Homo sapiens: one gene and its partners. The protein of the gene in region 4 purifies or fractionates together with the protein of the main gene of each other region. This does not show direct contact. Each region holds a gene or a part of one and is shown on either strand. Other genes may lie near its edges.

What was found. The genes of interacting proteins can lie anywhere in the genome.
Region 1: the proteins of C17orf78 (region 4) and NPTN purify together in Homo sapiens (affinity purification with mass spectrometry; one large-scale study listed by BioGRID and IntAct). This does not show direct contact.
Region 2: the proteins of C17orf78 (region 4) and CELSR2 purify together in Homo sapiens (affinity purification with mass spectrometry; one large-scale study listed by BioGRID and IntAct). This does not show direct contact.
Region 3: the proteins of C17orf78 (region 4) and ATP2B3 purify together in Homo sapiens (affinity purification with mass spectrometry; one large-scale study listed by BioGRID and IntAct). This does not show direct contact.

What each region holds. Positions count from the first base shown.
Region 1 is NC_000015.10:73,570,687-73,574,389, reverse strand, and holds part of NPTN (neuroplastin isoform b precursor), read left to right. Parts: intron 1-594; coding exon 595-728; intron 729-3,703. UniProt on the Homo sapiens protein: Probable homophilic and heterophilic cell adhesion molecule involved in long term potentiation at hippocampal excitatory synapses through activation of p38MAPK. May also regulate neurite outgrowth by activating the FGFR1 signaling pathway.
Region 2 is NC_000001.11:109,252,539-109,256,241, forward strand, and holds part of CELSR2 (cadherin EGF LAG seven-pass G-type receptor 2 precursor), read left to right. Parts: coding exon 1-851; intron 852-3,703. UniProt on the Homo sapiens protein: Receptor that may have an important role in cell/cell signaling during nervous system formation.
Region 3 is NC_000023.11:153,524,142-153,527,844, reverse strand, and holds part of ATP2B3 (plasma membrane calcium-transporting ATPase 3), read right to left. Parts: intron 1-3,703. UniProt on the Homo sapiens protein: ATP-driven Ca(2+) ion pump involved in the maintenance of basal intracellular Ca(2+) levels at the presynaptic terminals. Uses ATP as an energy source to transport cytosolic Ca(2+) ions across the plasma membrane to the extracellular compartment.
Region 4 is NC_000017.11:37,374,614-37,378,811, forward strand, and holds the start of C17orf78 (uncharacterized protein C17orf78), read left to right. Parts: upstream 1-1,371; 5' UTR 1,372-1,479; coding exon 1,480-1,537; intron 1,538-3,265; coding exon 3,266-3,352; intron 3,353-4,198.

The DNA.
Region 1 (3,703 bases), on a different chromosome or scaffold from region 4:
TCCTGTTCATTCCTTTCTTCCTCCTTGTGAAGACCAGTTTCTGGATTCCCTCTTTCCTGGGAGAGCCTTGGTCATTGTTACTTATTGAGTAGCTTCTCCAAGCATTCATTGTTTTTACATACCTTGTAATAGGACTTGATTGTAGTTGTTTTATCTCAGAATCTCATTTCCTTAAGGGAATGTGTGATATTTGACAGGATGCATAACTGTTGTTCATGCAGGTGTTTTAAGAAAAAACTTGGGCCGATAGAAGAGATAATAGTGTTTGTTTGCATTTTCTTTAAAGGTAGGCTTAATTGAGGGCAGTTGGACCTGCATCCTTTTCCAGTAGGTTGGAGAATCACCTACATTAGTAGAGCCTCATATATTAGTAACCCTGGTATCTGCCTGGGCATCTTTAGCGGGTGGGGGGTAGAGGATGGGTTTGGTCCCTTTACCCTATTCTGACCTGAAATGCTCTTCATCAAAGCTGAGTATGACAGTAAGCATAAAGACTGACTACATTACAAGCAGGGCTCTGAGCCAGAAGGTGGGGCCTTTGTATCCTGTTTGGAGTAGACTTCCGTGGTAACTGCGTCTAACGCTTTCTCACAGCCGCTCCTGACATCACTGGCCATAAACGGAGTGAGAACAAGAATGAAGGGCAGGATGCCACTATGTATTGCAAGTCAGTTGGCTACCCCCACCCAGACTGGATATGGCGCAAGAAGGAGAACGGGATGCCCATGGTGAGTAGGAGGCAGGCCCGGGTCTCTGGTTGCTGGAGTTTTCCCTGCAGAGGTCCAGACACGTGGGTCAGTTACTGTAGTAGCTGTATCCTCGGATGTGTGCATGGCGAGGGTCACCCTTTCTAGAGTCACGGTTTACAGCATGAATCAAGAGGTCATTGACAGTCTCTTCCAGCACAAAAATCCCTGTACGTGATTTGTTAAAGCTGTCCCTCTGGTAAGAGATTAGATTGCTCACTGTATTAGTCCATTCTCACTTTGCTCTAAAGAACTTCCAGAGACTGGGTAATTTATAAAGAAAAAAGGTTTAATTGGCTCATGATTCCACAGGCTTTACAGGAAGCATTGCCGGGGAGGCCTCAGGAAACACAGGAAAGATGATCTTTCCTATCTTAGACAACAGAGTGACATCTGGCCTGCTTTGAGTTTTATTGCTTTCAGATTACTGTAACTGAAGGTGAGGCATTGACAGGTAATATAGTTAAGATAAAGCTAAATCCAAAGAATTAGCCTCCCCCTCAGGCTTCTTTGATCCTTGAAACTTACCTATTTTTTAGACTGCAGTTGCTGTTTATTTCTTCTTAAGTGATCCCTGTAAGTAGAGAAACTTAGAATCATGGTGGAAGGTGAAGGGGAAGCAGGCAGGTCCTAGGTGGCTGGAGAGGAGGAAGAGAGTGAAGGAGGGAGATGCTACACACTTTTAAACAACCGGGTCTCATGAGAATTCACTGTCAGGAGAACAGCAAAGGGGATATCCGCCCCCATGATCCTGTCACCTCCCACAAGGCCCCTCCTCCAACACTGGGGATTATAATTCACCATGAAATTGGGGTGAAGACAAAATCCAAACCATATCACTTGCCTTCAGGATAGGACACTGAAAGAACCGAGCCTAATTCTCGTCCATTTATCCTGAAGAAAATACTGTTTTTGAAGTGGTCTTAGAGAACCTGCCTTGTTTTTTTAGTAGGAAACAAGGTACTGAGGGCAATTATTAGTACATTCCTGCAACACAGAACATACTGATAAGGAATTGGGGCAACCTGAGGAGGCCCAAGGTACTGAGGGCAATTACTAGTACATTCCTGCAACACAGAACATACTGATAAGGAATCGGGGCAACCTGAGGAGGCCCAAGGGCAGCCTTGGCAGCCTTAGACATTGGGAACCTGACGGTATTTGCCCCAGAAAATGTCAAAGAGAACATCTTTTCCGATCAGTGGGATGATTCATGATGTTGTTTGGAGAGTCAGAGCTTTAGAACCTCACTTTCTCTCTCATTATGATTGTTGACCCATTACCTTTTCTGTCAGAGAGCGTGTCAAGCGTTCCTCTGATCCCATGGATCCTCTTTGATTATCAGTCTTCAGAATCCAAAAGGACCTTAAAGATCATTAATCCATCTTCTTTGGAAGGGTTCCATAGTAGCCAAGATAAATTAGTGGCAAAACCAAGAGTTGTATCTAGTTTTTTTAAATTTCAAGTCCATTATTCTTCCTACTTCATGACATCTTGATAATAAAATGTTGAGTTGTGATAATGACTCCAACATCAGCGATGATTTCAGAGACCCGTTAACGAGGAGCAGGATGAGGATTGCCGAGGTGAAGATGCTGAGTCTTTTTTACAAGACACTGAACTTTCTAAGGCACTGGAGAGGAAATGTCCACTTCTCTCTGCTGGTCACTGGGAAGGAGTGCCCTTGAGCTTTTGCCAAAGCAGGTTGGAATTAACGCAGTATGTGTTTTAATCTGAAAGATGAAGCTTGAGGCATCACAGACTAGCTGTTTTAAAAGCTTACGAGTTCCCCATTTCAGATGTACCTGCACTCAAATGCTGACAAGATTGTATGCCATATCTAGAATCATTTCCAGGATAATATTCCCCTTTTTCTCTCCTATTTCTGATTGTGCTTTAGTTGTTGCAGGGTAAAGACACATGAGTCTGTTTTTTCCCTGCCGGGATCTCATGAGCTGAGTGCAGTGAGCCATCCCGCTGAGTCCCGACCTCTGCCTGTGCACTCTTGCACCTCTGCCTTCACACCCATGCGAATCCCTGCCTGCACTGCTCCTCCCTGTTTGATCAGCTGTCCTCCTCCACAGTCTAGTGCAAATGTTAGCTCATGTGTGAAGCTTTCCCTGACTCTTTCCAGCAGTGGCCACTCACTGTGCCCTACAGCACTCTATACACACGCTCTGTTGGGGCTTCTTAACACATTCCTGAAATCAGTCATCCCTTTTTGGATGTCTGGTTCCCTTTTGAGGCCAAGCTCCTTATTCATTTCTAGGTCTGTCTTCTCCCTATCTCACCTTCTCACTCCCACCTGCCCTTAGTAGGATATAAAGCATGCAGCATATTTTAGTAAATATTTGTTCTCTTTTATTTGTTTGTTTTGTTTTGTGTTAAGACAGGGTCTTGATCTGTCTACCAGGCTGGAGTGCAGCAACCTCCTGGGCTCATGTGATCCTCCTGCCTCAGCCTTCTGTGTAGCTGGGACCACAGGTGTACACCACTATGCTCAGCTAATTTTATTTTTGATTTTTTGTAGAGATGGGGTCTCAGTTTGTTGCCAAGGCCAGTCTTGAACTCCTGGGCTCAAGCGATCCTCCCACCTTAGCTTCCTAAAGTGCTGAGATTACAGGCATGAGCCTCTGTGCCCAGCCACAAATATTTGTTGATTGATTGAATAACCTTTCCTCTAACCTCTAGTCCTTAAATGAAAGGAAAGTTATGAATTTCCCCCAGTCTGACTAGGAGTGAGTTCTTAGCATTGTTTGTGGAGGAAGTTTAAGGAGACTTCCTCAGAACTCACCAAGTGTGAAGTCAGTGTGCTGACTCTGAGGTCATCAGAGAGGCCTGAGGTCCCCGAGGCATGCCTGACTGTAGGGGTTGTACCCCTCCTTCTGCCGTCCTCTTTCTGCTGTGGTTTCTTACCTGGTGTTGGAGGCAGCATTTACTAGGTTGTTGGACTTTTC
Region 2 (3,703 bases), on a different chromosome or scaffold from region 4:
CCAGGGCAGTGTCTATGAGGATGTGCCACCCTTCACTAGCGTCCTGCAGATCTCAGCCACTGATCGTGATTCTGGACTTAATGGCAGGGTCTTCTACACCTTCCAAGGAGGCGACGATGGAGACGGTGACTTTATTGTTGAGTCCACGTCAGGCATCGTGCGAACGCTACGGAGGCTGGATCGAGAGAACGTGGCCCAGTATGTCTTGCGGGCATATGCAGTGGACAAGGGGATGCCCCCAGCCCGCACACCTATGGAAGTGACAGTCACTGTGTTGGATGTGAATGACAATCCCCCTGTCTTTGAGCAGGATGAGTTTGATGTGTTTGTGGAAGAGAACAGCCCCATTGGGCTAGCCGTGGCCCGGGTCACAGCCACTGACCCCGATGAAGGCACCAATGCCCAGATTATGTACCAGATTGTGGAGGGCAACATCCCTGAGGTCTTTCAGCTGGACATCTTCTCCGGGGAGCTGACAGCCCTGGTAGACTTAGACTACGAGGACCGGCCTGAGTACGTCCTGGTCATCCAGGCCACGTCAGCTCCTCTGGTGAGCCGGGCTACAGTCCACGTCCGCCTCCTTGACCGCAATGACAACCCACCAGTGCTGGGCAACTTTGAGATCCTTTTCAACAACTATGTCACCAATCGCTCAAGCAGCTTCCCTGGGGGTGCCATTGGCCGAGTACCTGCCCATGACCCTGATATCTCAGATAGTCTGACTTACAGCTTTGAGCGGGGAAATGAACTCAGCCTGGTCCTGCTCAATGCCTCCACGGGTGAGCTGAAGCTAAGCCGCGCACTGGACAACAACCGGCCTCTGGAGGCCATCATGAGCGTGCTGGTGTCAGGTAAGGAAGGGCCCAGGTGGCGCTGGGGTGGGGGTAGCTCGCGGGGATGGTCTGGGCAGCCACTGGAGGTAGGGTGCGATCCAGGAAGCAGCTACAGATCCACCTCCCTGCCCAGTGCCTGGCACAGAGCAGGAGGGGCAAGAGCCAGCTTGGGAAGAAGCCCCAGGAACCCTGGCGGCTGGTGCAGGCCCCACCTTCTGCTGGGCTGGGCTGGGCTGCTTCGGTTGGCTGCCCCCACTGTCTACCAGCCTGTGACGTGGTCGGGGAAGTGTTGTGAGGCTGCCCCGGCTATGGCTGCCAAGAATTGTGAAAAAAGGCGCGTGGAAGCCTGGGGGGCCAGGAGAGCTGGGGGAAGGGCAGAGAGGACTGTGGCGCAGGAGAGGAGGCGAGGCCAGGGCCCCTTCACCCCCATCAAGATATTCCTGCAGTCTCACACAGCCTTTGGCAGAGCTGGGGACCACGGGAGCACAGGGCTGCCGCCACCCAGGGGTCAGGACCCTGTAGTCCTCTTCTGGCCCCTTTTGCCTCCTGGCTGAGCTGCAGAATCGGCTGACAGGGACTTTGTCTAGCGCATTCTTTTCCCTCCAGGCAGAAAGAGCCTGGCCTGGCTCCCCCTTCAGAGCTCCCACAGGAAGTGAGGCCAGAGCTCATTGTCTGTCCAAACAGACCCCACTTTCAGAGTCCGTGGTTCGGGTCTGGCTTGGAGGAGGGGCTGCAATGAAGCTGGGGGGCAGGCTGAGGCCTCGTGGGCCCCCCTTGCCACCTCATGGGCTGTTCTTAGGGTGCCAGGCCTTCCTTTCCTGCTAGCTGTGACCAGCCCAAGCTCCAGGAATGGAGTGTAGGGACCAGGACAGGCCAGTGGACTGGTGAGCTTTGAGGGCAGAGACCCCAAGGCACCTTATCTGAGGAGAGAACAGAGTCCCAGGGCGTGGGAGCCTGGCCGGAACCCAGGCTGGGGCATTCCTGCTGCTTGGCCAAGCACTCAGCCTACAGACTCCCTGGACAGCAGGGCTGGGGGAGGAGAGTTGGAGGGGGTTGGTGACAGTATTCTGTCTTTTTTTATCAGCTGTGGGGAGCCAGAGGTAGCAGCAGGGAGAAGACCACACCCAAGTTGCTGAGTGCCTTCCCCAAGCCTGGGAACAACTGAGACCCTCATGAGGGGATGCTGTTAGCTGCACCCCAGGGGTGGATCAGGTCACATCCCCTCTAGGCAGCCTTCAAATCCATCAGGGAAGGGAGGAAAAGAAGAGGCTGGCAGGCCCCTACTCCCACCCCAGGGAGTGTGGCCTGAAGGGGAAGGAGGGGTATGCCAGAGTCAGGGCGTGGCCTCACTCAGGGTCCTTGCTGGACAGATGCCTCCCTGCCCCACCCTTCAAAGTAGCCACAGGAACCAGGAAGCAGGAGCTTTTCAGGGACTGTGGCTGAGGTTCTGAGCCTCCTGAGACTTCAGTTTCCCCTCCAGGAGGCGGAAGAGGGAGGCTGGAGCTCCTGTGTCCTCAACTGTGCCTGGGCACTTGAGACAAGTGGGAAGGAGGTGGGAAGGAGGGCCTCTCCCTCTGGTCCTCCACACCCAGCCTGCCTTTGGTGAGCGTGGCCAGGCACTGGCAGAGAAGCGCCCCCATTAAGCCTTCGGTCTCCCACCAGGGCAGAGCCCTAGACCTTGGTTCCCTAGTCTAGAGAAGGCTCGGGGCAACATCCAGGACGGCTCCTCCTGGCCCGGCAGCTCTGGCCCCACCCTCTCCCTTCGGCCCTGACCCTTGGAGGCAGTCACCACGGCAACCCCAAAGTTCAGGGAGGCCGGGGTGAGGGGGAGCTGACTCCCACTGCCCCTTTGTTTTCCTCCTCTTGTTCTTTGTCTCTTCTTTCTTTCCCGCCCCTGCCCATGCGGAGCCCTGCAGCACTGCCTCTCTCCGGTGCCCTCTCCCTGCTCCTGCGGCTCTCCGGCTCTCCCACTTGCCCATTGCTGGCTCCTCTCCTGAGGCTTTGTCTTCCCCTGTTTGGTCTCCGTGTTTGTGCCTCCACTCTCTTCCCTATGGCTGCAGCTGCCCCAGCCTGGGCCGATGGCTCCCCTGGAGGCTGAATTCTCCTCGCCTCTTTCTTCCTCTGCTCAGACACGCAGCAGCTCCTGTCCATGGTCTGGGCAGCTCCCAGAACAGCAGAGCCCTCTTGGCCTCCAGTCTCCGCTGGCACATCTGCCAGGGGAAGAGAGGCTGGGAGGCTGACCGGGACCTGGCACTTTTCCAGGTGTGCCTGGCTAAGCTTGGGACACAGGTGGCATTTCCTGGGGTCAGAGGCCATCCCAGCTGTTCCTTTTCTGTCCAGGAAGACAGCTCAGGCAACGTACTCCCCACCCCTGTTCCCATCCTGCCTTTGCACCTGAGGGGTGACCTAGGTCAAGGCAGGGGAGGGTGATATAGAAAGGAGAGAGCAGTGGGTTGACTGTTGGGGATGGGGGACAACAGCAGAGGGGGCAGGTGGCCACAGATGGTGGACCAGATGGGAAGCAACAGAGACATGCTGGGAGAGGGGCCCAGGCGGGGCCTAAGACGATGGCGGTGGGGGACACAGGGAGAAGTGTTTGTTCCCAGGGCTGAGGGGTGGCAAAGTTTCTCCCGCTCCATGGCCTTGGTTGCCCCCTCTCCTCTCTTAATCAGTTATGGGCACTGTGTGTGGAGTCTTGGGCTGCTTTCTGCCTGGAGGGAATATCCCGTCAAGGAATCATTAGGCAGATATACCAGGTATACAAGAGCTCTGTGCCAGCTGAGCATCCTGGTGCGGGGAAGTCTGAAACGGAGAGGAAAGTAGAGCCTGATGACATAAATCTGGGCAGGCTTCCTGGAGCAGGTGAGCTA
Region 3 (3,703 bases), on a different chromosome or scaffold from region 4:
CCCTCCCGAGGCTTGTCCTGAAGTCTTCAGCTGGACTCCAGCTGGACCCCAGAGTTCACAGGTCAGGACCAAGCTCGACCGGTGAAGTCAGAACATTCCGTTCGGCCGGGGGCTGAACCCATGTGCCTCTCTGGATGCTTCCCCAAGCTTGCCCGGACTCCCGCAGTGCTCCTGTCTCCCACACAGGCGGCCCTCACAATGCTGGGTGTCCCTGGATCCCACGGGGAGGTTGGAAGCCCCTTTGTGATTGGGGCCAGAAGTCTACACTGAGGGTTGGGGGACAGTCATTTGTTTCCTGCCAGAGAAGGCAAGAGCTGCAGAAGGAGAGAGCGAGGGAGCAGGAAGCATAATGACACTAATTATCCAATTACAGCGGGTGTGCGAGCTGCATAGCAGCGTGAGCCTGGCCAGCCACTACCCTGCCCCTACGTGCTCCCCACGCCCCTCCTGCCAGCCCGGGCCTGCCCAGCAGCCCCGAAGGCAGGGACGGCATGGGGACCTAGAAACGCTGTGGCTGTGGCCAGCGTGAAAGACTCTAGCCTACAAAGGGACGGAGACCTCGTGTTTGGGGTCCAATGGGAAGCCGGGTCCCTGTCCTCCCAGCCCTTCATAGCCAGAGAGCACGTGGATGGGAGGAGAGGTGCCCCAAGTCGGCCCGGCTCTGCTGTGGTACCTCGGTGCCCGTCCCAGCCCGCTTCCAATCTCAGAGCCAGCTCTGAGGACCGGAAGCCGTCGGGGCCTAAATAGGTAATTAAGGAAATTACAGGCAGCTGGAGGCCATGGGGCTGTGGGCCCTGGGCTAAGTCCTTCCAGCTTGGACAGGCAGTGACTAAATAAGGAGCTACCAGGACACATACACGTGTCCTCCTAGGGAACGAGTCCCATGGGGCCCCATTAGGAATCCTGGCAGGGGCAGTAGAGAGGGCATCCTGGTTTCTGGAAGCAGGCCAAAGTCCTTGGGAGTACAGGCTGGGGGGATGCATTGGTGTCAAGGTCAGAGGCCAATAAAAGGATCTGGGAGGCAGACCTCCAAATGGGGGCTCCAACTGAAGATGGGAGTCAAGCCTGCCCTTCTGTGATCTAGACCCAAGGAACGAGCACACCGAAGTATCCGTGCCACTCTCCCCAGCTGAGGGGGCAGGATGCCTGCTGCCAAATGTGGTGATGGAGGAAGAGCCAGTGGCGAGGATGCCCAGAGAGAGGGTACCTCAGAAGCTGCAGCCGAGGCTGCAGGACGCGAAGGTCATCAAGGGCTTGGCTGCTGTCTGAATCGCGTGAACTGAGCATTGCTGGTTCATTTTTGAATTTTGCCTAAGACACTATTTCTGAGCGAGGAACCCGGCATACGAGCCCAAAGCTTTTCCAGCAAAGCCCAGAGGAAGCACCACCAAGTTCCTGCCGTGCTCCAGGAGTGCCTGAAGGGAGTGCAGAGGCAGAGGCCCCCTCTCAGGCCGGGACCCAACACCAACACAGGGCTCCGAGTCTCTCCCTCAGTGCGCCCCACAGCCCATCAGCTCCCCCTACCCTCCCACCACCAGCTGCTCCTCCAGTTCCTGACCCTCTTATCATCATCTGTCATCAGCACCATTCCTCCCGCCCCCTCTGTGCTCATGGACAGATGCCTGCTCTCCCCACTGGGAAGGCACCGGGAGAGCACAGCTGGGCTGGGGACAGGACCTGAAGGGGTGGATTTCTGCTCTGTGTGCTCACCCCCTCCCCTCCTCCCTTAGGGGAGACCCCAACCCTGCCCGTCTCCATCTCAGATACCCCCTCCCACGATTGTGCTATAGCCCAGCTTCCTCCTTCGGGGAAGGGTGGATGGGGCGCAGAGGGCCAGGCGGTGGCCTGGGAGCCCTGACCCACCCCATCCCACCTACAGACACAGCCACGAGTGCCTCCCTAGGGGCTACCAGGGCAGGCGTCTGGGGCAGTGGCCCCCAGGTCAGCGCATTCTTACCCTCTGGCCCCATGGATGGGTTACAAGGGGGGACTCTTGCTCCACTCCCCAGGACAGAGGTTTCCAAGCCTAGCTGCTGGTCACAGTGTTGTGGGCAGATGAACCACAGGCCAGGAGGGAGAGATGAGACTAGGTGGGAGACGTGCCCTACCCGTCCACAGCCCTCCCTCTTCTCCTGCACCAGACGTGGGACCATCTGCTGGCAGCCGCCCTCTGACTACAGGAAGGTACCCAGAGACCCCAGGAGCCAGAGGAGCCAGGACCAGCTGCTCCTGAGCCCATCTCTCCTGGGCCTGTGGCTCCAAGCCAAGATGTGGCAGTGTCTGGTCCTGGATGCTTCCAGGAGAAATGGAGCTGAGGCCCATGGTGGGGGGCGGAATGGACCCTTGTGCCTGGTGAGCCCTTGCTCTGCCCGAGAATTGGGGCTGGACACACTCTCCTGCTCCTGCTGCTCTTTGAGGGAGCCAAGCGGTTACTGCCGGGCTGGTCCAACCTGGAGAAAGGGCCCCTTCCCATTTGGTCACGCCCTGTGCCACCATCACACCCCTGGCCCGCAATCTGTGGGAATGTAGGTTCAGTTTCGAACCGGCCACTCCATGCGCCTTAACCCGGTTCAGGGTTTGATTTGAAACGCCGGAGTGCAGGGAATTCTGAGTGTCAGGACAGTGATTTCCAAAAGAGCAGCAGAAAGGCCTAAGTCCTGTCATTTGAGGTCATCTTCTGCCGGCCCACAGTGGCTTCCCAATCTCCCGCGCTCTCTTGTACTGCCGGCTTTGTTTTCGTGTTTCTCAGTCAGGAGGCTGTGGCGTTCCCAGGGCCGTCTGGCTATCCTCAGCTGGGGGCCTTCACTCAGGATGGCGCTGTACTGCCCACACCCGCCTCCCATCTGCGGAGAGTCAAATCCACAGCATCTGCACAGAGCCAGCCGCCACCCCACCCCATGGGGACCGGACTCATCTGCGGCTTCGGAACTCTGAGGATGTCCAGAGAATGTATCACCCAGTGCTTTATCTTGGCGGGGAGGGAGGAAGGGGGTCTTGACAAAGTGGTTCTGAAGTCCACTGGACAGAGAAGCAAGCTTTAGGATTGCTGAGGTGGGGCCGGCAGGTCAGGTATTAAATGATACCAGGTACAAGAGGCAAAAGCACATCACCGGTACAGCAGCACACAGATGGGCCCGTGGGTCAGGACAGGCAGCCAGCACCAGGTCTGACTGCAGACCAGTGTCAGTGCGTGCAAATGAGCCAGGGAACAACCGATTTGCTACTAGAGATGGGGACAACTGGTTAGCAATCTGCAAAGGATGCACCTTAGATCCTCACCTCAAACTATCCCCTAAGACACATCTCATTTGGATTCAACAGGTTTGGCAAATTACAGCTTAAGTGCCAAATCTGGCAGCCCAGTGTTCTTGTGAATAAAGTTTTATTGGGACACAGCCTCACCCCCTCATTTCGCATTGTCTGTGGCTACTTGCAGGCTACCATGCAGAGTTGAGTAGTCGGGACAGAGACTATGTGGCCTGCAAACTGGAAATCTATTTACCATCTGGCCTTTTGCAGAAAAAGCTTGCTAATCCCTAAATTAAAGAGTTAAGTATCTTAAAAATGCAACTACACCACCCCAATACACACACACACACACACACAGACACACACACACGAAGACACATGGAAAACTCAGAAATGAACAGCTCTCAAATTTCCGAAAGGGATTTTCTAAGCCTAGAAACAATGGAAGAAATCA
Region 4 (4,198 bases):
CTATGCCATGACAAAGTCTACAGATTATTACACTAGACACTAAAAAAATACAAATTTGGAAAAATCTTCAACAACAGTTATCTGTCTAGGAAAACCTTCCCAAGCCACAGACAGTACCACTCACCTGCCGTATTTAGCTCTTCCTCACAACCTCTCAGCCCAATGGTCATCAGAATGTTGTCCACCAATACTCACTTCACTATTCAGGAGTGTGAAGATGTGCAAAACTCAATAGGTATGTCTGTGCTAATGTGAGTTTATATATATAACTGGATTAATTCTAGAGATCATATGGTTCACGGCCGGCTGGGGTGGCTCACGGCTGTAATCCCAGCACTTTGGGAGGCCGATGGGGGCAGATCACTTGAGGTCAGGAGTTCGAGACCAGCCTGGCCAACATGGTGAAACCTGTCTCTACTAAAAATATAAAAATTAGCCGGCAGGGTGGCACACACATTTAATCCCAGCTATTCAGGAGACTGAGGCAGGAGAATCACTTGAACCCAGGAGATGAAGGTTGCAGTGAGCCAAGATTATGCCACTGCACTCCAGCCTGGGCAACAGAACGAGACTCCATTTCACAAAAAAAAAGGCCAGGCACGGTGGCTCATGCCTGTAATCCCAGCACTTCGGGAGGCCGAGGCAGGTGGATCACGAGATCAGGAGATTAAGACCATCCTGTCTAACACGGTGAAACGCTGTCTCTACTAAAAATACAAAAACATTAGCCAGGCATGGTAGTGGGCGCCTGTAGTCCCACCTACTCAGGAGGCTGAGGCAGGAGAATGGCGTGAACCTGGGAGACAGAGCTTGCAGTGAGCCGAGATCGTGTCACTACACTCCAGCCTGGGCGACCGAGCGAGACTCTGCCTCAAAAAAAAAAGAGATCATATGGTTCAGGACTCTCAATTTATAGAAGAGAACATTTAGATCCCAAGAAGTCAAGTAATTTTCTCAAGGTGATAGCTCATAAAAGGGCCTGTACTAGAACTCAATTGTACTGACTCCTAGTCCTAGTTTCCTGCTCTATTTCTATAATTCCTGCTCTAGAAATTATATTCCTTACTAGAAATCTCCACATCTTTTCATGAAAGTATATAAATCTCTGTGCCTGTGTCAGTGAGCATGCATGTAAATGTCTACGTGTCTATCTGCAAGTATTTGTAAAGCATATCAATGGGCGTTTATGGCCTTCCTGCTCGAGAAACCTCTAGGTAATCTAGTTCTCTATGTCGGCACCGGCAGCGAAGTCAGAAGAAGTCTGAGTGAATTATTAATAAGCAGAATTAGCCCTTTCTCCAATTAGATCTATTCCTGGGTCTTCAGGAAATGGGGCAAAATAATCAGGGTGGAATCAGAGTCTCTCAGGGTCAAACTTGGTTCCAGCTGCGTGTGGTGAAAGCAACTAGAGGCAGAGCTATCAAGGGCTGTGACAGATGAGCAGTGGTCTGTCTGCAATGAGCATGTGCTCAAGCTAACATGGATACCATCTTGGTCTTCAGCCTAATCATTGCATCCTATGATGCCAACAAGAAAGGTATGTAATTCTCTAGCCTAATCTCCTGGAAAATACAGAGAGAGGCCTAGAAAGAGTTTCGGGGTCTCTTCCACCAGATAGAGATGTAGCTGATATCCAGCAAGCAATACTTTCCAGAGTTAATCCCATGTATCCACTCGCCTCTAAGAAGGACTGCAACTTATTCATTCCAGAGAGATAGCTGTCTGTTTCATGATGAGAGGTCTTCAGAGAATGTGATGCATTCTTATGTCTTGTTCATGTAATTAACATTAAAAGTCCTTTCACTGTTGGATGGCTTTCTTTAGAGTTTCAGTATTGTCATCACCTAAGGTTCCCAAATTCATACTGTTCATAAGATGTTGCCTTTTTTAAGTTGGTACATGTAAATAGCTAGACGGTGATATTCTTGGGTGGGGAGAGCTGAGGGAAAGGGTGATATTGGGTGGAATGGCATCATTTGCTGCTCTTTGGTAACTGCTTATTTAAAATATGAGTTTTCAAAGTTTCATAAACATTTCATCTCTAAAATTAGCTAATCAAGGCTGGGCACGGTGGCTCATGACTGTAATCCCAGCACTTTGGGAGGCCAAGATTGGTGGATCACCTGAGGTCAGGAGTTCGAGACCAGCCTGGCCAACATGGCGAAACCCCATCTCTACTAAAAGTGCAAAAATTAGCCAGGCATGGTGGCATGCACCTGTAATCTCAGCTACTCGGGTGGCTGAGGCATAAGAATCACTTAAACCTGGGAGGTGAGGTTGCAATGAGCTGAGATCGTACCACTGAAATCCAGCCTAGGTAACAGAATGAGACTCTGTCTCAAAAAATAAAAAATTAAAATAAAAAAATAAAATTAGCTAATCAGAATTAAGACCAAATGGCACAAAGTGCAGCAGTAACGAATTTGACAAATTATAAAAATGTCACAACCCTTTGAATTATGTGCCAAAAAGCATAAATAACTAAGACCTATGGTTCTGTGGAAACCTATAGAGATACCAAGGTCAGACAATATAAATCTCCAAAAGCTTTATTTAATACAAGAAAGAAGACAGAATAGGAGGGAGAAGAGAAAATAAGCAGTATTTAAGGAAATGGGTTGGTTAGACTTTCATTAACTTAGTAAATTTTCTTAACTCTATTTGACCTTTCTTTGTCCTAAGGGTAATAGATTGGTACACAGTATTCTTTATACTAGGTCAACTACTACTTTGTATGTATTTGGCTGGGTGTTCTTTTTTGAGGGCCGGGCGTGGTGGCTCACACCTGTCATCCTAGCACTTTTGGGAGGCCAAGGCAGGTGGATCACCTGAAGTAAGGAGTTTGAGACCAGCATAGCCAAAATGGCGAAACCCCATCTCTACTAAAAATACAAAAATTAGCTGGGCATGGTGGTGCATGCCCGTAATCCCAGCTACTCGGGAGGCTGAGGCAGAAGAATCCCTTGAACCCAGGAGGTGAATGTTGCAATGAGCGGAGATCACGTCACTGCACTCCATCCTGGGCGACAGAGTGAGACTCCGTCTCAATAAATAAATAAATAAATAAATAAATAAATAAATAAATAAATAAAAGTAAAGTCTTTTTAGAGAGTGTTTGATCTCCCAAGTTGCAAGTTTTATGAGCAGGAACTGCAATCTTTCATATCTTCTCCATTGCCCAGAATTCTAAAAAGTAAGTACCAGTAAATTCTGATTTTCCCCAAACCTTCCCCGGTTCCCCTCCTCCCCCTCTGCTCACCCCCAGACCTCAGAGATAGCAGTTGCCGACTGGAACAGCTGCCTGGGATCTTCCCAAAAGACGTGAGAAGCATCAGAGAATTGCAAATGCAAGGTAGGGAATGGGTCCTTTCTGGAAAATGATATTGCCATTCCAAAAAATTTTTACCTTTAAAAGATATCTCATCTTCCCACTTCCTAGCCCATATCTCAAATATCCTATTTTAAGGATATGTATCCTCCCAGGGGGCTTTCTGGAAACCAATCTTTAAATTAACTGTCATTACCTAAGGCATGCTTATATTACTCAAATGGATGGAGATGAAAAAAGAGAAGGAGGCAGAACCTACCCCTCTCTGCATTAAAGAAAAATCTATGAGCATTTCTCTGTGCTAAATTTACTGCTGTCACCAACCTTCATGGGAACCATGGCAGAAGAAAGGCAGGACTTGTCTATTAGTACTATGAACACAAACTGAAGAAGTTAACTAAAAGGAGAGAAAGTACAGCAGTGGAGTTTAGCAGGGGTCATGAATGGAAATGGGTTAGCTTGGCACTGTTCAGATTAAAAACCAGCTTTGGCCAGGCATGGTGGCTCACACCTGTAATCCCAGCACTTTGGGAGGCCAAGGCAGGTGGATCACTTGAGCTTACGAGTTTGAGACTAGCCTGACCAACATAGTGAAACCCCATCTCTACTAAAGATACAAAAATCAGCTGGATGTGGTGGTGCACGCCTGTAACCCCAGCTACCTGGGAGGCTGAGGCAGGAGAATCACTTGAACCAGAGAGGCGGAGGTTGCAGTGAGCTGAGATTGCGCCATTGCACTCCAGCCTGAGCAACAAGAGCAAAACTCTGGGCAACAAGAGCAAAACTCAGAGATCGTGCCATTGCACTCTAGCCTGGACCACAAGAGCAAACGCTTCAAGGTCGGGTGCGGTGGCTCATGTCTGTAATCCC